Linked DNA regions of Homo sapiens: region 1 is linked to region 2. Evidence: fine-mapped expression QTL. A gene starts in region 2. The other region holds a variant in brackets. All regions are shown on one strand. Distances are between the middles of the regions. Region 1 overlaps DDB2 (damage specific DNA binding protein 2). Region 2 holds the start of NR1H3 (nuclear receptor subfamily 1 group H member 3).

Region 1 (15,506 bases), 32 kb before region 2:
GAAGCCAGAGTGGAAAAAAAAAAAAAAAGAATGTATGGTGGTAGGGTCAGGGGTAAACTAGAGATGACTGTTGTGCAAAAATGTAGGTCTTTTGATATCAGATGTGATTTTTCTCAAACAAAGACACAAATCCTCATTTTTTAAATGTCATATATCTTGAGTTTTAAAAAAAATTGTAAAATACACGTAACATAAAATGTATCACCTTAACCATTTAAAAGTGTTTTTTTTTTGAGGCGGACTCTCGCTCTGTCACCCAGGCTGGAGTGCAGTGGCGCAATCTTGGCTCACTGCAAGCTCCGCCTCCCGGATTCATGCCATTCTCCTGCCTCAGCCTCCCCAGCAGCTGGGACTGCAGGTGCATGCTGCCACGCCTGGCTAATTTTTGTATTTTTAGTAGAGATGGGGTTTCACCGTGTTAGCCACGATGGTCTCTATCTCCTGACCTTGTGATCTGCCTGCCTCGGCCTCCCAAAGTGCTGGGATTACAGGCGTGAGCCACCGCCCCCAGCCAACTTTTTAAAAAATAATGATAAAATACATATAACATGAAATTTACTTTCGTAACCATTTTAAAGTGCACAGTTCAATGGCGTTGGGTAAATTGTGTAAGCAGTCTCCAGAACTTCATTATTTTTTTTTATTTTTATTTTTTGAGTCTCATTCTGTCACCCAGGCTGGAGTGCAGTGACACAACCATAGCTCACTGCAGCCTCCACCTTCCTGACTCAAGGAATCCTCCGGCTTCAGCCTCCCATGTATCAGGGACTACAGGTACGCACCACCATGCCTGGCTAATTTTTAGAGATGTGGTCTCTCTATATTGCCCAGGCTGGTCTCAAACTACTGGCCTCAAGCAATCCTTCTGTCTTGTCTTCCCAAATTGCTCGGGATTACAGGGCTGAGCCACTGTGCTGGGCCTCTAGAACGTCTTAATATTGGCACTGAATGAAACTAAACACACGTCTCAGCCGAATTCTGCTTCAGTCCACTATTTTTCTAGCTCTGGTTTAAAGGTAGACATGAGGGGGAACCCAGGAGGAGGTCTCTTTATTTATTTATTTGTTTATTTTTTTGAGATGGAGTCTCACTCCGCCGCCCAGGCTGGAGTGCAGTGGCGCAATCTCGGCTCACTGCAAGCTCCGCCTCCCAGGTTCACGCGATTCTCCTGCCTCAGCCTCCGAAGTAGCTGGGACTACTGGTGCCCGCCACCACACCCGGCTACTTTTTTTATATTTTTTAGTGGAGATGGGGTTTCACCGTGTTAGCCATGATGGTCTCGATCTCCTGACCTCGTGATCCGCCCGCCTCGACCTCCCAAAGTGCTGGGATTACAGGCGTGAGCCACTGCACCCAGCCAGCAGGAGGTCTCTTAAGTGGAGGGATTTGGAGAGCAGACCACCAGAAAAGGCCAGGTTAGACAGGTGTGGGAGACTGGAATTCAAAGTGTGAGATGGGTGTTCAAGGAACAAGTGCCAGAAGCCCCCAGAAAGGCAGTCAGAGGAGTGCCGCGGACAGAGTGGGGTAGGTTTCCTGCCCAGCTAAAGAGGCAGGTGACCGCTAATAAGGCAGCTTGAAGTTGAAGTCAGAACCCAGAGCTCAGACAGGAAGAAATTTGTTTTCTTGTTTTCTCCAGGAGTCTAGGACATGGGAATAGAGGAATTTAGCTTATGCCTGGAGATGGGAAGAAGCAGTGTAGGGTATTCTAGGGGAAGAGCTTCCTGACTAACAGGATAATGACAAGTGCTTTGAACTTGTGCCAGACTGAGATTGCTTTTTTTCTTTGTTGCATCACCTTATGACATGCGTGTAACCTTCTTTACAGTGTAAACTTTCTTTACACTGTAATGAAGATTGGTCTAGGCATTGAATTTTGTGGCTTGCATTTGCAGGGAGCTAGGTTGGAGCAGAGGAAGGGTATGGCAGTCTGGAAGAGACCTGTCTGGTTTTACTCCCAGATGCTGACAGCAGAATGCTGATTTGAGACCAGTTACTGGAGGAGCAACAGTGCCTCATTTTGTCACTTCTTTAGTCATCTGACCTTGGCTGTGACCTTTACATTCTTCAGGCCCTTGGCAAGGGAACATGTATTACAGTTTCACAATGAAGATAGCTTAATTTTATTCCTATTATAAAAACAATGTATGGGGCCAGGCGCAGTGGCCCACGCCTGTAATCCCAGCACTTTGGGAGGCCGAGGCGGGTGGATCACCTGAGGTCAGGAGTTCCGAGACCAGCCTGACCAACACATAGTGAAACCCTGTCTCTACTAAAAATACAAAAATTAGCCGGGAGTAGTGGTGCACGTCTGTAGTTCCAGCTACTCAGGAATCTGAGGCAGGAGAATCACTTGAACCTGGGAGGTGGAGGTTGCAGTGAGCTGAGATGGTGCCACTGCACTCCAGCCTGGGCGACACAGTGAGACTCCATCTCTCAAAAAACAAAACAGTGTATTCTTATCATAAAATACAGAGAAAAGTGTAAAAAATAAATTAAATATGATCCAAAATCCCCATTTTCAGCATCCCTCTGTGCATGTGTACACTATTTTTTTTTTTTTCCAAGTCTGAGTCTTGCTCTGTCGCTCAGGCTGGAGTGCAGTGGTGCGATCTCACCTCACTGCAACCTCCGCCTCCTGGGTTCAAGCTATTCTCCTTCCTCAGCCTCCCGAGTAGCTGGGATTACAGGCATGCACCACCACACCAGCTAATTTTTGTTTTGTTTTGTTTTTTTAAGACAGAGTTTCACTCTATTGCCCAGGCTGGAGTGCAGTAGCACGATCTCGGCCCACTGCAACCTCTGCCTCCTGAGTTGAAATGATTCTCCTGCCTCAGCCTCCTGAGTAGCTGGGATTACAGGAGCCTACCACCATGCCCAGCTAATTTTTGTATTTTTAGTAGAGACGGGGTTTCACCGTGTTGGCCAGGCTCGTCTTGAACTCCTGGCCTAAGGTGATCCACCTGCCTTGGCCTCCCAAAGTGCTGGCATTACAGGTGTGAGCCACCGTGCCCAGCCTGAATTTTATATTTTTGGTAGAAACAGGGTTTCACCATATTGGCCAGGCTGGTCTCGAACTCCTGACCTCAAGTGATCCGCCCGCCTCGGCCTCCCAAAATGCTGGGATTACAGGCACGAGCCACTGCACCCGGCCTGGGTTTTTAAAATTATATCTTTATTGAGGTATAGTGGACATAAACTGCAGCTATTTCAAGTGTACAATTTGGCTATTCTCAGCCTATGGGGTAGTCCTACTCCAGAGAAGCAGTAAGAAAAAAAGAATAAATTGTACAATTCCATGAGTTTTGACATATGTGTACAACTGTGAAGCCATCACCACAATTAAAATAACTCCCATTTCCCCACCCTTTGTTGAATATTTGGAGAGTGATAGATAGATGAGTTATCTATGCCCCTTTGTAATCCACCCCTCTCTACCCAATATCTTATTCACTGTAAACTGCTGATCTATTTTTTATTTTTAGAAATTAATTTACATTTTCTAGAACTATATATAAATAGAATCATAGAATATATGGTCTTTTATTTTTGTTCTAGCTTGTTTCAGTATAATTATTTGAAATTTATCTACATTTTTATGTGTAGTTTTTTTTTTCTTTCTGAATAATGGTTCATTGTTTTTTGTTTTAAGACAGGGTCTTGCTGTGTCACCCAGGGATGATCATGGTTCAGCATAGCCTCAACCTCCTCAGCTCAAGCGATTCTCCCACCTCAGCCTCCTGAGTAGCTGGCACTACATGCACAGGCCACCATACCTGGCTAATTTTAAAATTTTGTTATAGAGACAGAGGTCTCACTGTGTTGCACAGGCTGGTTTCAAACTCCTGGCCTCAAGCTATCCTCCTGCCTTAGCCTCCCAAAGTGCCGGGATTATAGGCGTGAGCCCCTGCACCCAGCCACATTGTACTGATATGATACAGTTTATTCATTTACCTGTTCAAGGACATTTGAATTTTTTTCTAGTTTTTGAATGCAACATATAAAGCGACTGTGAACATTCACGTACAAGTATTTGTGTGGATATATGTTTTCATTTTTCTTGGGTAAATACTTAGCAGTGGAATGGCTGGATTATAGAGTAGGAATGTTTTAAAGATACTTTTTAAATGAGAAAAGGTTTTTCTATTTGCCCACATATTGTCATTTCCAGTGCTTTCATTCTTTCATGTGATCCAGATTTCCTTTTGGTAATATTTTCTTTCTGCCTGAAGAAATTCCTTTCATATTTCTTATAATGCAGATTGGTGATAAATACTTTCCACTGTTGTTTATCTAGAAAAGTATTTTGCCTTTATTTTGAGGGAGGATGTTTTTGCTAAGTATAGAATTCTAGGTTCACAGTTTTTAAAATTATTTAACTTTTATTTTTTAATTGGTAAATTAAAATTGTATTTTATTGCATACAATATATTTGTTCACAGTTTTCTCCTGTCAGTACTTTAAAGATGATGTCTAGGCTGGGCGCTGTGGCTTACGCCTGTAATCCCAGCATTTTGGGGGGCCAAGGCAAGTGGATCATTTGCGATCATGAGTTTTAGACCAGCCTGGCTAACATGGTGAAACCCCGCCTCTACTAAAAATACAAAAATTAGCTGGGTGTGGTGGCGCTCACCAGTAATCCCAGCTACCCGGGAGGCTGAGGCATGAGAATCTTGAACCTGGGAGGCAGAGGTTGCAGTGAGCCGAGATGGTGTCACTGCACTCCATTCTGGGTGACAGAGCAAGACTGTGTCTCAAAAATAAATAAATAAGGCTGGGCGCGGTGGCTGACACCTGTAATCCCAGCGCTTTGGGAGGCCGAGGCAGGCGGATCACGAGATCAAGAGATTGAGACCACCCTGGCTAACACGGTGAAACCCTGTCTGTTCTAAAAATACAAAAAAAATTAGCCAGGCGTGGTGGTGGGCGCCTGTAGTCCCAGCTACTTGGGAGGCTGAGGCAGGAGAATGGTGTGAACCCAGGAGGCAGAGCTGGCAGTGAGCCGAGATCGGCCACTTCACTCCAGCCTGGGTGACAGAGCAAGACTCCGTCTAAAATAAATAAATAAATAAAGAATAAAAATAAAGATGATTTCTAGTTGGGCTCAATGGTTCATGCCTGTAATCTCAACACTTTGAGAGGCTGAGGCTGGGGGACCTCTTGAGGCCAGGACTTTAAGACCAGCCTAGGAAACACAGCAAGACCCCATCTCTACAAAAAAATCTTAAAAATTAGCTAGTGGCTTGAACTTGTAGTTCCAGCTGTTCAGGAGGCTGAGGTGGGAGAATTGCTTAAGCCCAGGGGGACAAGGCTTCAGTGAGCTAGGCAAGCCTGGGTGACAGAGCAAGATCCTGTCTCAATTAAAAACAAAACAAAACAAAACATCCTGATGAGAAGTCTGCTACTATCCTTATGTTCCTGTCTATGTAATTTTTCTTCTGGTCGCTTTAAAAATGATTATGATGTGCTTGTGGGGGGATCACTAAGCTTCTTTGATTTATGGATTTTTTTTTTCTTTTGAGACAAAGTCTCACTCTGTCGCCCAGGCTGGTGTGCAGTGCCACAATCTCGGCTCACTGCAACCTCCACCTCCAGGGTTCAAGCGATTCTCCCTGCCTCAGCCTCCCGAGTAGCTGGGATTACAGGTGCCCACCACCTCACCTGGCTAATTTTTGTATTTATTTATTTTTATTTTATTTTTTTAGTAGAGACAGGGTTTCACCATGTTGGCCAGGCTGGTCTTGAACTCCTGACCTCCAGTGATCCGCCCACCTTGGCCTCCTGAAGTGCTGGGATTACAGGCGTGAGCCACCTTGCCCAGCCCATTATTTCTTACAAAGAGTTCAAAATGAAGAAAAAGAACAGTTCTTTTTTTCTTGGGACTGCGATTACATATGGTCCTGCAGGTGGTTGATGCACTGTTCATTTTTGTCTTTTTCCCTGTTTCATTTTGTGCAGTTGTTCACTGATCTTTACTTCTGTAATATCTAACCTTCTGCTGTCAATCCCTCCCTCCCTCCCTCCCTTCGTTCCTTTCTCTCTCTTCTCTTCCTCTTCCTTTTCTCTTCTCTTTCTTGCCTGTGCAGAGCAGGGCTGCTCCATAGGCAAAGTAGCCCAGCGTATTTTTCATTTCAGATACTGTATATCCCCTCTAGAAGTTTAATTTGGATTTTTTTTCATGTCTTCCATTTCTCTCCTCATATTTATTATTTCCTCTTCTTTCTTTTTTGAGATGAGGTCTCACTCTCTCTTCCAGGCTGGAGTGCACTGGCATGAGATCTCAGCTCACTGCAACCTCCACCTCCCAGGTTCAAGCGACCCTTCTGCCTCAGCCTCCTGAGTAGCTGGGATTACAAGTGTGCACCACCACGCCCAGCTAATTTTTGTATTTTTAGTAGAGACCAAGTTTCACCATATTGGCCAGGCTGGTCTCAGACTCCTAACCTCAAGTTATCCACCCACCTTGGCCTCCCAAAGTGCTGGGATTACAGGCTTGAGACACTGCTCCTGGCCCGATCCTGTGTCTTTAAAAAAAAAAAAAAAAACTCTAACAAGTAATACTGCTTTTTTTAAAAAAAATTGTGGGCCAGGCTCAGTGGCTCACGCCTGTAATCCCAGCACTTTGGGAAGCTGAGGTGGACGGATCACAAGGTCAGGAGATCGAGACCATCCTGGCCAACATGGTGAAACCCCGTCTCTACTAAAAACACAAAAAATTAGCTGGGCATGGTCGTGGGCGCCTGTAATCCCAGCTACTGGGGAGGCTGAGGCAGGAGAATCACTTGAACCCGGGAGGCAGAAGTTGCAGTGACCCGAGATTATGCCACTGCACTCCAGCCTGGGCAACAGAGCGAGACTCCATCTCTATTTTAAAAAAAAAAAACAAAAAACTGGTAGAAAACACGTAAAACAATTTACAATCTTTACTATTTTTAAGTGTACAGTTTAGTAATGTTAACTATATTCACATTGTTGTGCAACAGATCACTAGAACTTTTTTCTTGTAAAACTGAAACTCTATACCCACTGAACAAGCCTCCACTTCTCCCTCCCCTTAGCCCCTGGCAACCACAGTACTACTTTCTGTTTCTGTGAGTTTGACTACTTTAGATATCTCATCTAAGTGGAATCATACAGTATTTGTCTTTTTGTGACAGGCTTATTTCACTTAATGCAGTGTTTTAAGATTCATCCATGTTGTAGCATGTGGCAGAATTTCCTTTTTTAAGGCTGAATAATGTTCCATTGTTTGCGTGTACCACCTTTTGTTTATCTGTTTATTAATTGACAGACACTTGGGTTGATTTCATCTTTTGGCTATTGTGAATAATGCTGCAGTGAATGTGGATGTGCAAATATCCCTTTGAGACCCCGATTTCAGTTCTTTGGGGCTTATGCCAATAAGTACGATTGCTTCATCAAATGGTAATTTTGTTGTTCATTTTTTGAGGAACCGCTATATTGTTTTCCATACTGGCTATACCATCTCATGTTCCCATCAGCAGTGTACAAATGTCCCAACTTCTCTACTTCCCCACCAACATTTATTTTCTTTTTTTTTTTTTTTGAGATGAAGTCTCCCTCTGTCGCCCAGGCTGGAATGCAGTGGCACAGCCTCAGCTTACTGCAACCTCTGCCTCCTGAGTTCAACTGATTCTCCTGGCTCAGCCTCCAGTAGCTGAGATTATAGGCGCACACCACCATGCCCGGCTAATTTTTGTATTTTCAGTAGAGACGGGTTTTGCCACGTTGGCCAGGCTGGTCTTGAACTCCCGACCTCAGGTGATTCATTTGCCTTGGCCTCCCAAATTGCTGGGATTACAAGTGTGAGCCACCATGCTCGGCCTTTTCTGTTTTTTTGATAGTGGCCATCCTAAGGGATGTGAGGTGATAGCAGTGTAGTTTCATTTGCATTTCTCTAATGATTAGTGATATTGAGCATCTTTACGTGTGCTTCTTGGCCATTTGTATATTTTCTTTGAAGGAATGTCTATTCAAGTCCTTTGC[CTTTTTTTTTTTT/C]TTTTTTTTTTTTTGAAACAGGGTCTTACTTGGTCACCCAGGCTGCAGTACAGTGGCACAATCATAGCTCACTGCAGCCTCGAACTTCTGGGCTCCAGTGATCCTGCTGCCTTAGCCACCCGAGTAACTGGGACTGCAGGTGCTCACCATCATACCTTGCTAACTTTGTTTTGTTTTGTTTTTTTCGCTGTCTCTTACAGAAAGGACTTACTAAGTTAAAAAAAAATTTTTTTTTATAGAGATTGGATCTTGCTATGTCTCCCAGGCTGGTCTTGAACTCCTGTTTGCCTGTTTTTTAGTTGGGTTATTTGTTGTTGTTTTGTAGGGGTTCTTTATATATTCTGGATATTAACCTTTTTTTTTTTTTTTTTTTTTTTTGAGATGGAGTTTTGCTCCTGTTGTACAGGCTGGAGTGTAATGGCTCAATCTCGGCTCACTGCAGTCTCCACCTCCCGGGTTCAAGCAATTCTCCTGCTTCAGCCTCCTGAGTAGCTGGGATTACAGGCATGCGCCACCATGCCCGGCTAATTTTTGTGCTTTTAGTAGAGACAGGGTTTCACCATGTTGGCCAGGCTGGTCTTGAACTCCTGACCTCAGGTGATCTACCCGCCTCGGCCTCCCAAAGTGCTGGGATTATAGGTGTGAGACACTGCGCCCGGCCATGATATTAACCTCTTATCAGATCTATGATTTGAAAATATCTTCTCCCACTTCATAGATTGCCTTTTCACTTTGTCGATTGTTTCTTTTGATGCCTGAATTTTTTTTTTTTTTTTAATTTTGAGATGGAGTTTCACTCTTGTCACCCAGGCTGGAGTGCAATGGCGCAATCTTGGCTCACTGCAACCTCCACCTCCCGGGTTCAAGCAATTCTCCTGCCTCAGCCTCCCAAGAAGCTGGCACCCACCACCACGCCCAGCTGGCCCGATTGATTTTTAATAGTTAAACCAACTTTGCATTCTTGGAATAAGTTCATCCTGGCCATAACATATTTATCGTTTTTAAATATTACTGGATTGAGCTGGCAAATATTTTAAGATCTTTGCATTTGTGTTCATGTGTAAAATTGGCCAAATCCTTGTCACATTTGTGTATCAAGATTATGCTGATTTCTGGCCAGGCGTGGTGGATCACGCCTGTAATTCCAGCACTTTGGGAGGCCGAGGGGGTCGGATTATGAGGTCAGGAGATGGAGACCATCCTGGCCAACATGGTGAAACCCCGTCTCTACTAAATATGCAAAAATTAGCTGGGCGTGGTGGCGCACTCCTGTCATCCCAGCTACCCGGGAGGTTGAGGCAAGAGAATCGTTTGAACTTGGGAAGTGGAGGTTGCAGTGAGGTGAGATCGTACCACTGCACTCCAGCCTGGCAACAGAGTGAGGCTCTGTCTCAAAAAAAAAAAAAAAAAAAAAAGATTATGCTGATTTCTGTGAATTGCTTGAGCCCAGGAGGCAGAGGTTGTAGTAAGCTGAGTGCACCACTGCAGTCCAGCCTGAGCGACAGAGCACAACTCTGTCTCAAAAAAAAAAAAAATTATGCTGCCCTCTTTAGCTTGGGAATTATTCCCTCTTTTTCTAGTCTGTGGAGACGGAGGGTTTAAGATCAATATCTGGCTGGGTGCGGTGGCTCACTCCTGTAATCTCAGCACTTTGGGTGGCCAAGGTGGGCAGATCACCTGAGGTCAGGAGTTCAAGACCAGCCTGGCCAACATGGCAAAACCCTGTCTCTACTAAAAATACACAAAAATTCGCCAAGCATGGTAGCAGGTACCTGTAATCCCAGCTACTCGGGAGGCTGAGGCAGGAGAATTGCTTGAACCCAGGAGGCAGAGGTTGCAGTGAGCCAAGATTGTGCCACTGCACTCCAGCCTGGGCAACAGCATGGGACTCTGTCTCAAAAAAAAAAAAAAAAAAGGAAGGAAAGATCAATATCTCTTCCTCAGCCAGGTCCGGTGGCTCATGACTGTTGGGAGGCCGAGGCAGGCGGATCACTTGAAGTCAGGAGTTCGAGACCAGCCTGGCCAACATGATGAAACTCCATCTCTCCTAAAAATACATAACTTAGCTAAGCGTGGTGGCGTGAGCCTGTAATCCCAGGTACTTGGGAAGCTGAGGCTGGAGAATTGTTTAAACCCAGGAGGCGGAGGTTGCAGTGACCTGAGATGGCACCATTGCACTCCAGCCTGGGCTACAGAGTGAGACTCCATCTCAAAAAAAAAAAAAAAAAGAAATATCTATCTATCTATCTATCTATCTATCTATCTATCTATCTATCTTCCTCTTTCTTCATCTTCTTTTTCCCTTCCTGAACAGTTCAAACCAAAAGTCATTAGGTAGGATCAAGCAAGATAGATGTTTACGTAGTGGGAAGGCTACAGTGCTGGAAGTGCCAGATGCTGGGGCCCCTGAAGCTGAGGTGAATGTCATTACAGGTGGCAGGTGGCAGCTCAGTACATAGAGACTGGGCCCAAACAAGATCAGAAGGGCATCCATGTAGGCAGGGGTGAAGAGTAGAGGAGGCCGGGCATGGAATAGTGAAGTCTGAAGCGGGGTTGAGGATGCTGAACCACAGGGAGGCCTAGAGTGGGGTGGCGGAGTCAAGTGGGGTGAGCAGGGCTTTTGCATGGAGAGGGGCGGCCGTGGCGCCTGATGTGGGCAAGGAAGTTGTGTCTGCATGGTTGAGGGAGTGGAGAGAGGGAAGAGGGTGATTGTGCCCTCGGGAGGGTAAAAGAGTCCAAGCATCCTAAGGAAGACGTGCATTTGGGGAGTGTGTGGCAGCAATAGTGGAAGACTGGTTACATACAAGGAGATTAATCAAATATGTAAGTATATTGAGTAAAATGGGAACCACATTTTTCACTGTCAAAGAAGGGAATTATAAACATGGAAAGAGAGAAACTCGAATCAACTCTGTGGTGTTGACTTTGAATTGAAGACATTGATACAAATTTAAGGTTTTCAGTATACAAAGTAAGACAGTTGTGAAGCAATCTGATTGCAGATTCCTTTTACATTTTTATTACCTTAATCTTTTATAAGTATCTCACCCTATGCTTAATTTGATGGCTCTTCTTTTTTTTTTTTTTTTTCTTCTTCCTAATAGAGACAGGGTCTTGCTCTGCCACCCAGGCTGGAATGCAGTGGCAGGATCATAGCTAACTACAGCCTTGAACTCCTGGGCTCAAGTCACCATCCCACCTCAGCCTCTCGAATAGCTATGAGCACAGGTGTGCACCATCACTCCCAGCTAATTTTTAATAATTTTTTATAGAGGCTGGACCCAGTGGGTCATGCCTGTAACAGCACTTTGGGACGTTGAGGTGGAAGGATTGCTTGAGCCCAGGAATTTGAGACTGGCCTGAGTTACATAGTGAGACCCTGTCTCTAAAAAAAAAAAAAAAAAAAAATTGGTGACACACACCTATAGCCTATAGCACCAGCTACTTGGGAGGCTGAGGCGGGAGGATTGCTTGAGCCCAGGAGGTTGGGGCTACGCTGAGCCAGGATTGCACCACTGCATCAAGGTTTTGAACTCCTGGCCTTAAGCGATTCTCCTGCCCCAGCCCCTCAAAATACTGGGATTATAGATGTGAGCTACTGTGCCCAGCCAATAGCTATTATTTTTGCAACTCATTATCAAGTTCTTCCAAAGCTTTCAACACGGCTTTTATAGTAGTAATAATGGCCTTTGTTTTTGCATGTATTTCATCAATTTACATGCTTAATTAAATTTGGTGTTAATTGCAATAAAAGATACAATTGGAATAAACAGGTTTGAGAACAACTACAACCAACCCTTGGTTTGGTAAGCATAGAACTCAACTGGAGGGAGCCGAAGATTGTCATACTACCAGCAAGCATTTGGCAGACCATGAGCATTAGAATGACCGTGAGGTTAGAATGTTTTATAGAGGGAAGGGAATGTGCCAGTTAGTATGTTGTGATAGCTAAGTGGTTGTTGCATAGAAGAACTTGTACAGGTCTGTGAGGCTGGGATAGCTGCAGCGTAAAGAAGAAGTGGAAAAGGTGGAGAAAGGCGGACAAGTGGAGAACTTTACATCTTGGGGATGTAAAGTTCTTAAAACAGTGCCTGACTGGGCGCAGTGGCTCACGCCTGTAATCCCAGCACTTTGGGAAGCCGAGGCAGGCCAATCACCTGAGGTCAGGAGTTCGAGACCAGCCTGACCAACATGGTGAAACCTGTCTTTACTAAAAATACAAAAATTAGCTGGGTGTGATGGTGTGGGCATGTAATCCCAGCTACTCAGGAGGCTGAGGCAGGAGGATCACTGGAATCCAGGAGGTGGAGGCTGCAGTGAGCTGAGGTTGTGCCACCGCACTTCAGCCTGGGCGACAGAGCAAGCCTTCATCTCAAAAAAAAAAAAAAAAAAAAAAAAACACACAAAGAAAATCCCCCCAAAAAACCAGCGCCTAGTACATAGTAAGCACTTAATAAGGTTAAGCCATTGATATTCTCATGATTATTTTCATCATCATTTTCATGAATGTTTGGAAGAATAGGAAGGGGCACAGATCTGACTCCTGCCCTCCTAACTCAGCCACTGCTCTGAGCTGAAGCTCTTCTAAAGAGAGCACTGTGGGAATAACAAATTAGGGCACATCCATGTAATGGAATACCTCAGCAATAAAATGAGATGAGCTCTTGATACAGCAAACTCAGATGAATCTCAGAGGCATGATGAGTGAAATGAAACAAGACAGTCTCAAAAGGTTGCATACTGCCTAATTCATTTACATGACATTCTATTTTTAATTTTATTTTATTTTATTTTTAGAGACAGGGTCTTGCTCTGTCACCCACGCTAGAGTGCAGTGATTCGATCGCAACTCACTGCAGCCTCGACCTCCAGGCTTCCGTCATCTTCCCACCTCAGCCTTCTGAGTAGCTAGAACCACATGCACCTACCACCATGTCTAAATTTTTTTTGTGTGTGTAGAGATGGGGTCTCCCTATATTGCTTAGGCTGGTCTTGAACTCCTGGCCTCAAGCAATCCCCCCGCCTCAGTCTCCCCAGGTGTTGGGATTACTGTGCTCGGTCTATAGGACATTCTATGAGGGCAAAACAATAGTGATGGAGAACAGATCAGCCAGGGGCTGGGGGCGAGGGGAGGGTGTGATTACAATGGGATACCACGATGGAGTTTTTGGGCTGTTGCAAATGTTCTGCATCCTGATTTGGGTGGTGGTTATTTAAGTCTATACATATGTTAAAATTCAGAGAACTTTATATCCCAAATTTGCTATATGTTAATTAAAAAAAAAAGTAAAAATAAAGCCTTAAGAAATGAAGGGAGGCGGGGCACGGTGGCTCACGCCTGTAATCCCAGCACTTTGGGAGGCCAAGGGTGGCGGATTACCTGAGGGCAGGAGTTCCAGACCAGCCTGGCCAACATGGTGAAACCCTGTCTCTACTAAAAATATACAATTTAGCCATGCGTGGTGGTGGGCACCTGTAATCCCAGCTGCTTGGGAGGCTGAGGCAGGAGAATCGCTTGAACCTGGAAGGCAGAGGTTGCAGTGAGCCGAGGTCGTGACAGAGCAGGACTCCATCTCAAAAACATAAAAATAAAAATAAAAATAAAAAAAAGAAAGAAATGAAGGGGCCAGACAAAGCGGCTCATGCCTGTAATCTTAGCACTTTGGGAAGCCGTGGCAGGGGGATCGCTTGAGCTTAGGAGTTCAAGACCAGCTTGGGCAACGTGACAAAACCCCATCTTAAAAAAAAAAAATAGAAAAATTAGCTGGGCATGGTGGCACGCACTTGGGAGGCTGAGGTGGGAGGATCGCTTGAGCCCAGGAGATTGAGGCTGCAGTGAGCCGTGTTTGTGCCACTGCACTTCAGCCTAAGTGACAGAGAAAGACCCTATTTCAAAGGAAAAGAAAAAGAAGTGAAGGCCCTGTAGAGAGCGTCCTAGTGTCTAAGCTGACCTGGCCCCAAGCGCTGCTCGAGGGGTGCTTCTGTGACGGCGCAGCATGTGTGCCCAGGCCTGGTTCCTCACGGCCAGGCCCATCATCACTCACTGGCTTTTTCCTTCCTCGTGTTAGATTGGAGCTGGAGGGAGCATCACTGGGCTGAAGTTTAACCCTCTCAATACCAACCAGTTTTACGCCTCCTCAATGGAGGGAACAACTAGGCTGCAAGACTTTAAAGGCAACATTCTACGAGTTTTTGCCAGCTCAGACACCATCAAGTGAGTAGTTTAACTAGCAGGGGAAAGGGCTTCTAAGCTTAGGTGTAGTTCCGGCAAGAGCATCCAGATCCCATTTCCTTAACCCAACCTGGCCCAGGGAAGAAAGGAAAGATGTCAGCCACTTTCCGCCCTTCTTTCTCTTTCTCAAACTGCTCCTTGGCTGCCCTCACTTTGGTCCAGGTGGGTTACTGCTTTGGGAAGGTGTTCTGGAGCCTCAGCTCTTCTGTAAGTCATACCTGTATTAGACTGGACCTTGACCCTCACTAGATAAGCCAGCATGGCGTGGACCCAGAAAGCCACCTAGAGAATGGAGCAACAGCTCAGAACTTGAGACTGAATGCCCTGCACTCACTGTGGTGTAATGACCTGACCTGTTCCTGGGTGGAAGCTTATATGGATGGAATCTTTTCCATAAAGTGCTCTGGACTTCCCAAGAGAAAGTGGCTGGAGAAATTACAGAATGCGGCCGGGTGCAGTGGCTCATGCTTGAAATCCCAGCACTTTGGGAGGCCAAGGTGGGTGGATCACCTGAGGTCAGGAGTTCGAGACCAGCCTGGCCAACATGGTGAAACCCCCATCTCTACTAACAATACAAAAAATTAGCTGGGCGTGGTGGTAGGCCCCTGTAATTCCCAGCTACTTGGGAGGCTGAAGCAAGAGAATCGCTTGAACCCAGGAGGCAGAGGTTGCAGTGAGCCGAGATGGCGCCATTGCACTCCATCCTGGGCAACAAGAGCGAAAATCTATCTCAAAAAAAAAAAAAAAAAATTACAGAATACTCGTCACTTTGATTTCCAGCTAGAGCCGTGACTCTGACTGCTCCCTGAGGAATTAAGTGAGGGTGCTGGGGTGTAACTAGCATTGGATTGGATCCTGGGCTGTCCCGCAGGGATGAGGAGTGCATGCGCACGCAAATCAGCAGGCAATTGGATAGACAAGGCTCCAGGCTACTCTTCCGCAAGAAATCTTCCTGCTTGAAGATATTCATAGGGGATGGCAAAAGGCAGTGTAGCATGGATTTGAGAGTTTGAGAGAAAAACTGTGAGCTGAGCTCTTCTGGCTGAATAGCAGGATCCCTGAAGCACCCTCCTAGTCAGCCTCCCAGTCCAGTGGTTTGAGGGACCAGAAGAGCTCCTGGTTGTGTTTTTTCCCCCAGTGTTCAGAAGGGGGCAGAAGTGCTTTTCTAGCCAGCTCTGAGGAACAGGGCCAGGCAATCCCTCTTTGGCTTGTGTCTCCTTTGGCCTAAAGGGTGAAGAGTGAAAGGAGAGAGCAGTAA
Region 2 (15,506 bases):
TGAGGCAGGAGAATGTCGTGAACCCAGCAGGCGGAGCTTGCAGTGAGCGGAGATCGTGCCACTGCACCCCAGCCTGGGCGACAGAGCAAGACTCCGTCTCAAAAAAAAAAAGTCAGGTTTTGTGATTTTCAGTTAAATAGTCTATAATGGGCTGCTTCTTGCAGGCTACTCAAACTGCATTACTAAACTGTAATTGGTGATCCCGAAATCCTTTCAATAAAGAGGTATCTGTCAAAGGAAACCTTTTCAAATTAGTTGGACTAAACGGGACCTAGGCCGGACATGGCTCACACCTGTAATCCCAGCACTTTGGGAGGACGAGGCGGGTGGATCACCTGAGGTCAGCAGTTCAAGACCAGCCTGGCCACCATGGTGAAACCCCATCTCTACTAAAAATACAAAAATTAGCCAGTCGTGGTGGCGTGTGCCTGTAATCCCAGCTACCGGGGAGGCTGAGACAGGAGAATCACTTGAACCCAGGATACAGAGGCTGCCGTGAGCCGAGATTGTGCCACTTCACTCCAGCCTGGGCAACAGAGCGAGACTCTGTCTCAAAAAAAAAAATAAAATAAAGAGGGCTTGGGTAATTGGCAAAATGCTGCATATTAGTGGTAGTGGGAGGCAGTTGAGTGTTTTGTTTTAATGGGCCTCTTACTCCTTGCAAACTAGCCAGACCATTGTACTTTCAGAGTGTAAATCTTTGGCTCACCAAATTTCAGCTATCTCTCAAATTCAGCTTTTGCTTTTCTTCCCACTTGCTCAAATATGTCTATATTCTTTGTGCATGCAAGTATCCCACGTAGGAGGGATTGATGAAGCAGATACTATTTCAGTTTTTATAGGGAGAAACTATTCCAGGAAGGGTGGGGATTACAGCGCAAGTAGATAGTAGAGCCTGAAGCTGAGCCCTAGTTTCTTCACCCCTTTGCCTTCAGCTTTTGCATTTTCTGCCAGATGATTCTGTGGTTCTTACACTTTGGTTCGTAACTACAGGTGCAAAAAAAAAAAAGAAAAAAAAAAAACACATGTAGATAGATGGATATGTGGGCCTATCCCAGATCAAATAAATCAGAATCTCTGAAGGTGAGGACAGGAACCACTACCATATTCTGTGTTGGCAGAAGCAAACCTAAATCCAGGTATGTTAGCCATTTTTTTTCCATCTGAAGAGGCAGTTTTTGTTTTGTTTTGTTGTTGTTGTTGTTGTTGTTGTTGTTTTTGAGATGGAGTTTTGCTCTTGTTGCCCAGGCTGGAGTGCAATGGCGTTATCTCGGCTCACAGCAACCTCCGCCTCCCGGGTTCAAGCGATTCTCCTGCCTCAGCCTCCCGAGTAGCTGGGATTACAGGCATGTGCCACCACGCCTGGCTAATTTTGTATTTTTAGTAGAGACAGCTTCTCCATGTTGGTCAGGCTGGTCTCGAACTCCCGACCTCAGGTGATCTGCCCATTTTGGCCTCCCAAAGTGCTGGGATTACAGGTGTGAGCCACCGCACCCACCCGGCTGTTTTTTTTGTTTGTTTTGTTTTGTTTTTGTGACAGAGTCTCCCACTGTCGCCCAGGCTGGAGTGCAGTGGCACAGTCTCGGCTCACTGCAAGCTTCACCTCCCAGGTTCACGCCATTCTCCTGCCTCAGCCTCTCGAGTAGCTGGGACTACAGGCACCTGCCACCACACCTGGCTAATTTTTTTGGCTTTTTTTTTTTGTATTTTTAGTAGAGACAGGGTTTCGCCGTGTTAGCCTGACCTAGTGATCCACCCACTCGGCCTCCCAAAGTGCTGGGATTACAGGCATGAGCTACTGCGCCCGGCCCCAGCCGGCAGTTTTATATAATGGAGTGTATTTGTGATTTTTGTTTGTTTGAGCTTGAGCTCAAACTTTTGAATCAGCTAAACTTGTATTCTTTTTTTTTTTTTTTTTTTGAGACAGTCTCCCTCTGTCACCCAGGCTGGAGTGCAGTGGTGCAATCATGGCTCACTGCAGCCTCGACCTCCTGGGCTCCAACAGTCCTCCTACCTCAGCCCCCCAAGTGGCTGGGACTACAGGCAGATGCCACCACGCCTGGCTAATTTTTGTGCGTGTGTGTGTTTTCTGTAAAGGTGAGGTTTCGCCATGTTGCCTAGGCTAGTCTCAAACTCCTGGACTCAAGCGATCTGCCCTTCTTGGCCTCCCAAAGTGCTAGGATTACAAGTGTGAGCCACCACACCCAGTCTTATACCTGTATTCAAATTTGATATTTGCCCCTTGCTAGTAACTATCTCCTAGAGTTTACTGTGAGAATAAATGAAATAATGCATGTAAAGATAAATGTATGTAGTAGGGATGAAATAAATGTCACATCTTTCCTTTCTGCCTTCTGTATCATCTCTGAACTCAGGTCTGGGAATCCAGGTTTCTGGATTATTCTCTATGTTGTGATTGGAAGGTTGGGCAGAAGTCACTTGAGTAGATACGCAGTGGTCTGCAAGATGATCCCTGCACTTTCCACCCTTCCAGAACGGTGAAGGAGGGAACAAGAAGCAGTTCTCCTGGTCCATCCCTGCAGACCTTACCCTGTGGCCTGCTTCATGGGAATGAGTACTTTCAGGGCAGTTAGCCAGTACTACCTGTGACCATGGCTGGTGAATGCTCCTGTTTCTGCTTCAAGTTTCTCCTTGCTGTGAGAAGAAACCTGTGGAGGTTCTGGGGGGCCAGATATGTGACTTGGTAGATCCCCGAGTGTGTTCCCAGAGACATTGCCTCCTGCAGGAGCCAAGGAAACACAGAAGAGGCCCATAGGACTGGGGGACTTTGGACCTAACAACTGTGGGCTGGTGGGACTGTGGCACGGGGGTGGGGCTGCCAAAGTGGGAACATGATTCCAGCTGCTGATCACTTCACTGCTTGCCCTGGCTTGAAGTAAGTCTCAGTGGTTGGTCTCCAGAAACTCCATGGAAATACTGCCCACAGGTTTTGGTCTTCTCCCATTTTCCTCTCCTTTTCCCTCTTTGTAGGGATGAGGGTTGGGGTTTCTGAGCTGTAACCTGATAGGACGGCTCTGGCAGTTGAAGTCCTGGTTATAATTCCTCCTAAACAGGAGACCCTAGCCTGCCCACCCCCACTCCCACAAGATGGGGCTCGTATGTGGTCCTGGGTCCTGGGAAGCCACCTGTGGGGAGACTAGGTGTCAGGGGAGGGAGTTGAAGAACAAAGTGGATGAAAGAGGCTTCTCCCAGCTCCCAGAAGATAGGGCACCAGGCCCCAGACCATTGAGTCCTGAGTTTCTTGAAACCAGCCATCTCTGTGACATCTCTGGCTGCCCTGCTGGGCTGGAGCTTCTGGGAGCAGGGAGGTAGAGGAGGGAGCTGGACTGGTGATGTGGGTGCTGGGACAGAATAGTGCCAGTCTCTCAGTGACTAGAGTCCCTGGTTTCTGCTTTTCCAGGACAGCTGGGGCCTTGTGAAAATCAGAGAGGGAACACAGGCGAGAGGAATGGAGAGCCTTGTGCTTGTGACTCAGAGATACCCAGACCAGGGTGGGGGCCTTGGGAGGGGACGACCTTGTGATGAGGGGGAACAAAAGCAAAAGCTGGAGGCAGAAGTCTGAGATGGGGGTGTCACAGGGGCTTTTCTGAAATGTGAAAATGAATACATGGGCAGATTTTGCAACAGCACCCAGCCTGCTGTCTTCTCACACTCTGCTCCCCAGCCCCGGCCTGTTCCCCCTCTCCCACCCTGTGCTTCCTCTCATCTTTCACCAGGCTGCTCTTCTGCCTCAGCCTTCATCTTTTTCTCATCTGGTTCCTTCTGTCCCATCTACACCCCCTGTCCACTCTTTCCCTGTTTCCTGTGTTCTCTTCCCTGGTGCCCTGTTCATCTGTTTCGGTCTCTTTGGCTGCTTGCCCTGGCCCCCGTCCTTCTATGCTTTAATGTGGGGCCCATGGGAACTGGAGTTCATAGCAAAACAGGAAGAGCCGGTGAGCAGGAAACTGGGAATGGGGCAGGGGGTGAATGACCAGCAGTAACCTCAGCAGCTTGCCTCCCACATCTGGACTGGAGCATCTGCAGGGTTCTCAGCCTCTCCCCTGTAGCCCACCAGCCCTGGCTGCTTCCATTACAGCACTTCACTGGCCCAAGACGCAACAAGACAAGATTGTCCTGGACTCTGACACAGCAAAGGGACTGGAGTGAGGACATCTGGGTTCTGATCCCAGCCCAGCCACTAACTGTGTGGTCTTGGAAAAGGCCCTCACATGAGTTTCAGTGTTCTCTGTCAAATGGAGCTCGGGTTACTTACCCTCCTTTCCTCCCAGCGCTGCTCTAAGGACCAGAAAAGATAGTGAAGGGTTTGTGCTGTGTATGGAAACAAGTACAAAGTTCAAAATCCACCAAGTTAAAGCAATGGGAAGACCTACAGCTGAAAGAACTGGGAGGGTGATGATAACTCGTGCCATTTCTCAAACACTATGTGCCACACGTTGTGATAGACTCTCTTTCTTTCTTTCTTTTTCTTTCTTTCTTTCTTTCTTTCTTTCTTTCTTTCTTTCTTTCTTTCTTTCTTTCTCTCTCTCTCTCTCTCTCTCTTTCTTTCTTTCTTTCTTTCTTTCTTTCTTTCTCTTTCTCTCTCTCTCTCTCTTTCTTTCTTCTTTTTTTTTGGAGTTTTGCTGTTGTTGCCCGGGCTGGAGGGCAATGGCGCGATCTCGGGTCATTGCAACTTCTGCCTGCCAGGTTCAAGTGATTCTCCTGCCTCAGCCTCCTGAGTAGCTGGGATTACAGGAATGCATCATCACACCCGGCTAATTTTTTGTATTTTTAGTAGTGATGGGGTTTCACCATGTTGGCCAGGCTGGTCTGGAACTCCTGACCTCAAGTGATCCATCTGCCTTGGCCTCCCAAACTGCTGGGATTACAGGCATGAGCCACCGCACCCTGCATGATCTGTAGTTTCAATCCCACAACAACCTTGTGTGGTAAAAATTACTATTATCCCTATTTTATTTATCTTTCTTTCTTTTTCTTTTTTTTATTTTGAGATGGAGTCTCAGTCTGTCACCCAGGCTGGAGTGTGGTGGCACAATCTCGGCTCACTGCAACCTCCCAGATTCAAGTGATTCTCCTCCCTCAGCCTCCCGAGTAGCTGGGATTACAGACCCGCATCACTATGCCTGGCTAACTTTTGTATTTTTAGTAGAGACGGGGTTTCACCATGTTGGCCAGGCTGGTCTCGAACTCCTGACCTCAAGTGATCCACCCGCCTAGGCCTCCCAAAGTGCTGGGATTACAGGCGTGAGCCACCGTGCCCGTTCTATTTATTTTTCAACACACCATTGCTGGCTCAACTATTCTTATTTTAAAGATAGGGAAACAAAGATTCAGAGACGTTAAGTAACTTGCTCAATCAAGATCACATAGGTAATAAGAGGTTTAGGATTTGAACCCAAAATCTGAGCCCAGAGTCTGAACGCTAAATCAACATGCTGAGTTGAAATTGACTACAGCAGTTGTGATGGCGTGTGCCTGTAATCCTAGCACTTTGGAAGGCTGAGGTGGGAGGATGGCTTGAGCCCAGGAGTGTGAAGCCAGCCTGGGCAACATAGTGAGACCCTACCCCAAAAAAGGTAAAAAAAAAAAAAAAAAGGAATAATAAAAAAAATTGACTAGGGCTAATAAGTACGGGATAGACGAGAATAATATTTCTTTTTTTTTTTTTTTTGGGGACAGAGTCTCGCTCTGTCACTCAGGCAGGAGTGCAGTGGCGCAATCTCGGCTCACTGCAAGCTCTGCCTCCCGGGTTCACGCCATTCTTCTGTCTCAGCCTCCCGAGTAGCTGGAACTACAGGCGCCTGCCACCATGCCCGGCTAATTTTTTGTATTTTTAGGAGAGACGGGGTTTCACCGTGTTAGCCAGGATGGTCTCGATCTCCTGACCTCGTGATCCGCCTGCCTCGGCCTCCCAAAGTGCTGGGATTACAGGCGTGAGCCACCGCGCCCGGCCGAGAATATATTATATTTTTCTTGTTATTCATTCAACAAATAGGAACACAGTACCTACTCTGTTGCCACATCTATGCCAGCCCTGTTTCAGGGGTGTTGGGGGAGATGAAATCAATAAAATATGATGTCTACTTTCAGGGATGGATTTCATGCCCCAGGCAGCAGAGTAGGAAGAATGACTATAGTCTCAGTAGCTGCTGGTTGGAGCCTGCCATCACTTCAGATGGGGTTGTTCCCCAGAAGAGGCAACCCGCATACCTTCCCAGGTCCATCCTGGGCTGCCACCTGAGTTGCCTGTCTTCCTTCTGCCACCTCCACCCCTATCCCAGGCCTGCCACTGCTCATAGCAGATTTCCTATCAAAGGCTCTCCTGGCCTCCTCTCTTATCTGTGGCCCCCGCAGGGCACCCACTTTCAGAAACTCCCTGGAAGGCCCAGCACCTGCCTCTCTCCACCCCTGGATTTCTACCAGCTTGGCTGAGGCCTGGGGCTAGTGGGGAGAGCTTCTTGGCCTCTTCCCAGAGGCAAGGGAGGAGGAGGGAGGCTGGGAAAGCCGCTGGGGCTCAGTGTCGCAATTCCGGGCCGTGCTGGGACCTTTGCTCCACGAGGTGCCTATGGAGGGGAGGGAACACGATTCTGGAGGCTGCTGGGATTGGGGTGGGGGTTCCTGGGAGGCAGTCCTTTTGCAAGAGCTGCTAAGAGCGCTGGGTAAGGAGAGGAAGGGGAGAGACATGGAACTTGGCTGGTCTGCAGGGAAATGCCACTGTTTTGGCCGGGAGTAGGGGGCGGGAGTGGCGGGAGAGGGGGTGGCCGGCTGGGGAGGAGCCAGCCTGGTGGAGAAGCTGCCCTGTGGGCGGGGGTGAGGAGGGGAGGGCTGTGGTCACCAGGCAGGAAGGAGGGGTGGCCTGACCCCTCGGCAGTCCCTCCCCTCAGCCTTTCCCCAAATTGCTACTTCTCTGGGGCTCCAGGTCCTGCTTGTGCTCAGCTCCAGCTCACTGGCTGGCCACCGAGACTTCTGGACAGGAAACTGCACCATCCTCTTCTCCCAGCAAGGGGGCTCCAGAGACTGCCCACCCAGGAAGTCTGGTGGCCTGGGGATTTGGTGGGTCTGCTCCTTAGCAGTGGCCTGGGGCTCTGTGTGTGTATCTGGGGTGGGGTCGGGGAATGTCCTAAGGATCTGAGAAGGGGGTTTCTGGGGAGAAGTGAGGGGTGATGGTGATGGAAGCTTGGGACAGGAGCAGGACTCTGGGTCCCAGAATAACTCATGAGGGGCTCAGGGGAGGAGGTCCTCTATGTGAATTGGGGAGATTCTTGGAGACAGGTTTGTGCTGGGACCCTGGAAAGTGGCACGAGCGAGGTTCTCTAATAAGCAGCGTGTTTCACTGGGTGGAGTGAGCTGTCCTCAGTGTTGGAGTGAGGGGGAAGGGGCCCAAGAGAAGCAGGGCAGATGCACCCAAACATTCCCTGCTGGCCTGGAGGGGACTTTGGGGGAGAAAAGCCGGCACGGTGGCTGGGAGCCCAGACTTTGGAGTCAGAGGAGGGTTGGAGTCTTGACTCTACCGCCGCCTAACTGTGTGACCATAGTTACTTAATCTCTTTGAACCTCAGTTTGCTTATCTGTAAAATGAGTTTAAGAATAGTCCTGAGCCAGGAGCAGTAGCGTGCGCCCATAATCTCAGATACTCAGGAAGCTGAAACCTGATTGCTTCAGCCCAGTAGTTTGAGGCGATAGTGTCCTATTATTGCACCTGTGAATAGCACTGAGTTCCAGCCTGGGCAACATAGAGAGACCCCATCTCAAAAAAAAAATTAATAGTTTTGACCTCAGAGGGATATTATGAGGAAAGCACATAAAGCCTTATAACAGGCTGGGCGCAGTGGCTTACTCCAATAATCCCCACACTTTGGGAGGCCCAGGTGAGAGGATCACTTGAGCCCAGGAATTCCTAGACTAGCCTGGGCAAAATAGGGAGAACCTGTCTCTAAAAAACATAATAGTAATATAATAAAGCCTTAGTACAGGCTAATATATGGCAAGTAAATGTTAGCTGATATTGTTGATATTGATAAAAGGGAGGATCAGGTGGAGAAGGGAGCTGAGGCCAGAAAGGAGCCCAGTTCTAGAAGAGTATAATCTGGGTCCTTCCTGCAGGACAGTGCCTTGGTAATGACCAGGGCTCCAGGAAGAGATGTCCTTGTGGCTGGGGGCCCCTGTGCCTGACATTCCTCCTGGTAAGCTTCATTCCATCCCTCTCCCCTGAGCCCAGACCGCAGGCTCCACGCCTCCTGTAGGAATCAGCCTCCTTCATTACCTGCCTTCTTCCTTCCTCCAGAGAGCAGTCCAGAGTCATTCTTAGTCGTGCTTGCCTCCCGCCCAGATCACCTCTCCCCTGGTTCCAGTGCCTGGCCCTTGCAGGCACCCGCCCAGTCCTCCCCAGTCTGGATTTGCTGCTAGAGAGTTGGCCAGCTGAGTGCTTACCCTGCTCTGGCTTTGAAGAGTTTTATCTGATCTCTGAAATGCATACACTCCAGCCCCCCAAAGGGACAAGGATTAACATCTTCATTTAAGGTCCTGAGATGTAAGAAACTACAAGTGACTAGTCCTAGCTAGAGCCCACACAGACTCTAGGGTCCCAAAGCCTGAGCTGGGACTTTGCTGCCCTCTAAGGGTGGGGATAAGTTTGCAGTTTCCCAGCTAGGACGCTGGGCCGTGGAGCCGGGATGGGGCCTGAGACCCCCTTGTGCCTCTCTTTTGGAGCTCAGACTCTGCGGTGGAGCTGTGGAAGCCAGGCGCACAGGATGCAAGCAGCCAGGCCCAGGGAGGCAGCAGCTGCATCCTCAGAGAGGAAGCCAGGATGCCCCACTCTGCTGGGGGTACTGCAGGGGTGGGGCTGGAGGCTGCAGAGCCCACAGCCCTGCTCACCAGGGCAGAGCCCCCTTCAGAACCCACAGGTGAGGAGCTTCTGGGTTTGGAGGAGGTAGGGGTCCAGATTCCAGGTCCTGGATCTGGAAGAGGTTCCTTGGGGGTTTTTACTTTATATATAATCTCATGGTTAAGTTCAGAGGCTTTAGAGCTAACTAAATCTGACTGATCTAAGTGTGAATTTTGTCTCTAGGCCTTTCTGAGCCTCACTTTCCTTGTTTATAAAATGGAAATAAAAATTATGGTTGTCATAAGGATCAGTGCATATAAAAGGCTCATACAGTACCTAGAACATAATGGCACTTGGCAAATGAGGGCTACTCTTCTCATAAAAGAGAGACTGGAGTTTGTATAATGAAGGGAATGAAGGTCACTGAGTGCCCAGGGCAGTGGCTGAGTCAGGGAGAACATGATGTTTTTCCTCGGGGGAGAGCGTTGAAGCACTTTCCTGTATCCAGAGATCCGTCCACAAAAGCGGAAAAAGGGGCCAGCCCCCAAAATGCTGGGGAACGAGCTATGCAGCGTGTGTGGGGACAAGGCCTCGGGCTTCCACTACAATGTTCTGAGCTGCGAGGGCTGCAAGGGATTCTTCCGCCGCAGCGTCATCAAGGGAGCGCACTACATCTGCCACAGTGGCGGCCACTGCCCCATGGACACCTACATGCGTCGCAAGTGCCAGGAGTGTCGGCTTCGCAAATGCCGTCAGGCTGGCATGCGGGAGGAGTGTGAGTTTCTGGGGCTGGAGTGGGGAAGAGGCTGAGGGGAAAGAGGGGGCCAGGGTGTGACCCAAAACAGGTGCCTGAACTTGCAGGGGCTAACTGATCCCTAAGTATGGATCCCAGTATCTTTCTTGACCGGGCGCGGTGGCTCATGCCTGTAATCCCAGCACTTTGGGAGGCCGAAGCGGGTGGATCACCTGAGATCAGAAGTCCGAGACCAGCCTGGCCAACATAGTGAAACCCCGACTCTACTAAAAATACAAAAATTAGCCGGGTGTGGTGGTGAGCGCCTGTAATCCCAGCTACTCAAGAGACTGAGGCAGGAGAATCACTTGAACACGGGAGGTGGAGGTTGCAGTGTGCCAAGATCATGCCACTGCACTCCAGCCTGAGCAAGTGTGAGACTCTGTTTCAAAAAAAAAAAATCTTCTTGCCTTTACCCAGTGCTGTCTGCTTTTCTGGAGCCCCAAACCACCCCCTTTGCCCCATCCTTCCCTCCTGTCTTTCCCCCACCCCCTTGCCCCATCCTTTCCCCATCTGCTCCCTTCCTCATATTTGGCCCTGTCCTTAGGTGTCCTGTCAGAAGAACAGATCCGCCTGAAGAAACTGAAGCGGCAAGAGGAGGAACAGGCTCATGCCACATCCTTGCCCCCCAGGGCTTCCTCACCCCCCCAAATCCTGCCCCAGCTCAGCCCGGAACAACTGGGCATGATCGAGAAGCTCGTCGCTGCCCAGCAACAGTGTAACCGGCGCTCCTTTTCTGACCGGCTTCGAGTCACGGTACTTGACACACCTGGGGAGAGGCGGCTGCGCCCAGATCACCAGTGGGCTTCTTGATGTCCGACTCAAAGCGCTTTGCCTTTTCCCTCCTGGGTAGCCTTGGCCCATGGCACCAGATCCCCATAGCCGGGAGGCCCGTCAGCAGCGCTTTGCCCACTTCACTGAGCTGGCCATCGTCTCTGTGCAGGAGATAGTTGACTTTGCTAAACAGCTACCCGGCTTCCTGCAGCTCAGCCGGGAGGACCAGATTGCCCTGCTGAAGACCTCTGCGATCGAGGTGGCTGGAGAAGGGCAAGGGATGAAGGGAGAAGCAGAGTGGGATTATCTGTGGGAGGGGCCTCCAGACATCGAGCTGGGAGAGCCAAATCTGCTGGGAAGCAGGGATGAGGAGAATCGGCCTCCCTGGAAGAGGCCATGCTCCAAGACCAGCCCTCCTAGTCCCCGTTTGAGGTTTGCTGCTTGTGTGCAGGTGATGCTTCTGGAGACATCTCGGAGGTACAACCCTGGGAGTGAGAGTATCACCTTCCTCAAGGATTTCAGTTATAACCGGGAAGACTTTGCCAAAGCAGGTGAGAACTGAGATCACACAGGGATTGGGGTTGGGTGGACAGATGCTTCTTTTTTTATTTTTTATTTTTAAAAATTGAGGGCCAGGCGCGGTGGCTCATGCCTGTAATCCCAGCACTTTGGGAGGCCGAGGTGGGCAGATCACCAGGTCAGTAGATCAAGACCATTCTGGCTAACACGGTGAAACCCTGTCTCTACTGAAAATACAAAAAATTAGTCAGGCATGGTGGCACGCGCCTGTAGCCCCAGCTACTTGGGAGATCGAGGCAGGAGAATCACTTGAATCTGGGAGGCAGAGGTTGTAGTGAGCCAAGATCGCACCACTGCACTCCAGCCTGGGCAACAACAACAACAACAACAAAAATTGAGATAGAGTCTTACTATGTTGCCCAGGTTGGTCCCAAACTCCTGGCCTCAAGTGATCCTCCTGCCTCTGACTCCCAAAGTGCTGGGATTACAGGCGTGAGCCACCCACCATGCCCGGCCAAGTACTTTTTTTTTGTTTCATTTTTTTTTTTAGACAGAGTTTGCTCTGTCACCCAAGCAGGAGTGCAGTGGCGTGATCTTGGCTCACTACAACCTCCGCCTCCCGGGTTCAAGCAATTCTCCTGCTTCAGCTTCTCAAGTAGCTGGGATTAGGTGCACCACCATGCCCAGCTAATTTTTGTACTTTTAGTAGAGACAGGGTTTTACCATGTTGACCAGGCTGGTCTTGAACTCCTGACCTTAAGTGATCCATGTGCCTCAGCCTCCCAAAATGCTGGGATTACAGGCATGAGCCACTGAACCTGGCCAGGACTGGTGCTTTTTGTCAGAGGCCCATAGTGACTACAGAGCCACAGGCCCAATGTTTGGGTGGCTGGTAAGGGAAGGCTCCCTTGTTTTTTGAAGATAGAAAATTGGAATGCTGATAGGCTTCTCTCAGCTGCTCCAGATAGACCCCTGTCCTCTGTTGCTTTAGGTCAGTGGTTTTCAAACTGTATTCCAAGGAACCTGAGAGATATATGGAATGGCACCTTGGAGGAGAAACAGGGAGGCACAGGAATGTCCTTCATCTTTACTTTAGCCAAACAAGAAGCTCCATTTAAATCTGCATTATATATTGCACTGCTACATAGTATTTTGCTTGCAGATTTTACAGCTTGAAAAAAAAGTTTGAAACTCAGTGCACTCAACTTTTTAGTAGTCAAAAAGTGAACAAATCTTCCTCACATGTGCTCTTTGGGGATCATGGGGGCTGATTTCCCCTACTTTTTTTTTTTTTTTGAGATAAGTTCTTGCTCTGTCACGCAGGCTGAAGTGCAGTGGCATGAACGTGGCTCACTGCAGCCTCAACCACCTGGGCTCCAGTAATCCTCCTGCCTCAGCCCCCAAGTAGGTGGGACTACAGGCATGCACCACCATGCCAGGCTAATTTTTATATTTTTTTGTAGAGAGTGGGTTTCGCCATGTTGCCCAGGCTGGTCTCAAAATGGTCTCGAACTCCTGAGCTCAAGTGATCCACCCACCTCGGCCTCCCAATGTGCTGGGATTACAGGCATGAGCCACCACACACAGCCTCCCCTACTCTTTTTCTTTTTTTTTCTTTTCTTTTTTTTTTTTTTTGAGATGGATTCTCACTCTGTTGCCAGGCTGGAGTGCAGTGACGCGATCTTGGCTCACTGCAACTTCTGCCTCCCGGATTCAAACGATTCCCCTGCCTCAGCCTCCTGAGTAGCTGGGACTACAGGCGCGCGCCACTACGCTCAGCTAACTTTTGTATTTTTAGTAGAGATGGGGTTTCACTGTTTTGCCCAGGCTGGTCTTGAACTCCTGAGCTCAGGCAATCCGCCCGCCTTGGCCTCCCAAAGTCCTGGGATTACAGCCATGAGCCACTTGTCCAGGCCCCTCCCCTACTCTTTTTCAATTGCACTTTCTGACGAACCAGAACCATGGCATGGCAAACATGCCCAGAGAGGATGTACAATAAGAGCGAATGCTTCCATCTCCATCCTATATCTGAAGTATTTTCTCCAAAAATTAGTTCATTCTGCGGCTCTCTATCTGATGCTCGCTTGGGAGCTACGCAGAAGGGGTTTCTTCATATTCAACTATTGATAATGTTTGTATCATGAGAACTGGCCTGGGAAAGGACGGGAGGCTGAGGGAGTTTTGGAGGGACTGGAATTGAGCTTCAGCAGGAAACCAAGTAGCTTAACGACTGGATGAGTGGGGCTGTAAAATATGGCTGATGCCCTGACTCCACTCTCAGGGCTGGTAGATCTGTGGCCAGGCCAGTCATCAAGCCTTCCTTGGTTTCTGATAACTCAGGCCAGCTCACGTGCCTCTTGCTCTCCCAACGCAGTCCACCCAGTGAGCTTTCTAGGAAGGCCACTCTTCGCTGTAGGGCATAACAGGGCTATGTTGGCACCTTTTGCCTTCTATAGTAACCGGTGTGCTGCCTGGATGTATTGACACCTAATGGGGTGATTTAATGACTTTATCCAGCTTTAAAGCCCAGCCCTGCTCCCCTCTTCCAAACCACTTTTTCCTCGATGGTTATTATCTCAGACCTTCTTAACCGTGGCTCTCCCCTCCTTCAGAATATCCTCCTTGTGGAACCCTGCCCAGTTCTAAGATCTTTGTATTCCTTTGGCACTTGTAGACTCATGCTATCTGAATCTGCACCTATTCATAGATTTATTTATACAAGCAGTTTTGAAGTAATCATGCTTGCATTTCTTATTTCATGAGTGAGGTCTTGGGGAGAAGGAACAGGAGCTCTGCTTGTCAAGTCTCCTCCCCTCCCTATCCGCTACTATTTACTGCATGCAGTAGATAACTGGTGACATGGACTGAGCACATTTGAGGTGTTCATTCCGTGGGCATCAGCAGACCCTCAGAGGTGCATTAGCTAACTATAGAACCTCCTCTTAATTTCTCTATAAAGGGGGCTGTTTGCCACACTTTGGGGCTCAAAACCTCACCAAGAAATGCTTTAGAAAATGGGGCTTGCCGCCGGGCGTGGTGGCTTACACCTGAAATCCCAGCACTTTGGGAGGCCGAGGCAGGCGGATCACCTGAGGTCAGGAGTTCGAGACCAGCCTGGCCCATATGGCAAAACCCCATCTCTACTGAAAATACAAAAATTAGCTGGGCGTGGTGGTGCACACCTGTGGTCCCAGCTACTCAGGAGGCTGAGGCAGGAGAATTGCTTGAACCAGAAGGCTGAGGTTGCAGTGAGCTGAGATCGCGCCACTGCACTCCAGCCTGGGTGACAGAGCAAGACTCCATCTCAAAAAAAGAAAAAAGAAAAAGAAAATGGGGCCTGCCCATTAAATGGACCAACACACAACACTTGATAAACATCAGGGTGAAAGTACAGGAAGTGACTCACCAAGAAGCCTTGAATGGAAAAGTGTAGCAGATGGTTGCTAAAAGAAATCTGACAAAGCCTGGGGAACTCTGTAGGGTGCAGAGACTTTGACAATGTGTATGAGAGACATTCTCTAGGTATCATTACTTTAGCTCATGTTTTGTTGCATTTTAGTCTTCTCAGCAGGAAGACTGTTTCCAAGAAAAATGTATTATTTATTGACCAGGCGCGGTGGCTCATGCCTGTAATCCCAGTACTTTGGGAGGCCGAGGCAGGCAGATCACGAGGTCAAGAGATCGAGACCATCCTGGCCAACATGGTGAAATCCTGTCTCTACTAAAAATACAAAAATTAGCTGGGCGTGGTGACATGCACCAGTAGTCCCAGCTACTCAAGAGGCTGAGGCAGGAGAATTGCTTGAACCTGGGAGGCAGAGCTTGCAGTGAGCCGAGATCATGCAACTGCACTCTAGTCTGGCAACAGAGCAAGACTCTTTGTCTCAAAAAAAATTTTTTTATTTATTTTACAAACACTTATGTGGTAGTTACCATATATGCCACATATTTATGAGATAGGTACTATTATTATTCCCATTTTACAGATGGGAAAACCAAAGCCCAGAGAGGTTAAATAACTTACACAAGGTCACACTGCCTTGTAAGTGGTAGAGGCAGGACTCAACCCGAGGCAGTCTGGCACCAAAATCCACATCCTCACCCATACTGCAATATTCCCTCGAGGATGTGATACATGAAATGTATCTCTAGTGTTCAAATAAGTAAGGCCAATGCCAGTGAAAAACAAGTCTTTTTTTTTTCTTTGAAACAGGGTCTCGCTCTGTCGCCCAGGCTGAATGCAGTGGTGTGATCAATCATGGCTCAATGCAGCCTCGACCTTCTGGGCTCAAGTGATCCTCCTTGAGTAGCTGGGACTACAGGTGTGAACCACCGTGCCCTGCTGAAAAAGGATTTTTTTTTTTTTTGAGCCAGAATCTTGCTCTGTCGCCCAGGCTGGAGTGCAAGTAGAACAATCTCGGCTCACTGCAACCTCCACCTCCCAGGTTCAAGCAATTCGCCTGCTCAGCCTCCCGAGTAGCTGGGACTACAGGTGCGCCACCATGCCCAGTTAATTTTTGTATTTTTAGTAGAGACCGGGTTTCACTGTGTTGCCCAGGCTGGTCTCAAACTCTTGAG

The links.
Region 1: its variant is fine-mapped to the expression of NR1H3 in whole blood (INTERVAL, PIP above 0.99).

What each region holds. Positions count from the first base shown.
Region 1 is chr11:47,218,730-47,234,235 of GRCh38, forward strand. DDB2 (damage specific DNA binding protein 2) reads left to right here. Exons shown (of 10, transcript NM_000107.3): 4 at 14,085-14,230. Among named protein-coding and RNA genes, the nearest start is that of DDB2, 12 kb to the left of the region's middle. The variant CTTTTTTTTTTTT/C (reference allele first, on the strand shown) is at 8,005.
Region 2 is chr11:47,251,059-47,266,564 of GRCh38, forward strand. NR1H3 (nuclear receptor subfamily 1 group H member 3) reads left to right here and starts at 6,938. Exons shown (of 10, transcript NM_005693.4): 1 at 6,938-7,071; 2 at 8,122-8,201; 3 at 8,733-8,921; 4 at 9,351-9,617; 5 at 10,183-10,391; 6 at 10,489-10,668; 7 at 10,861-10,960. The coding sequence starts at 8,159. RefSeq lists enhancers at 8,378-8,946, 14,180-14,474.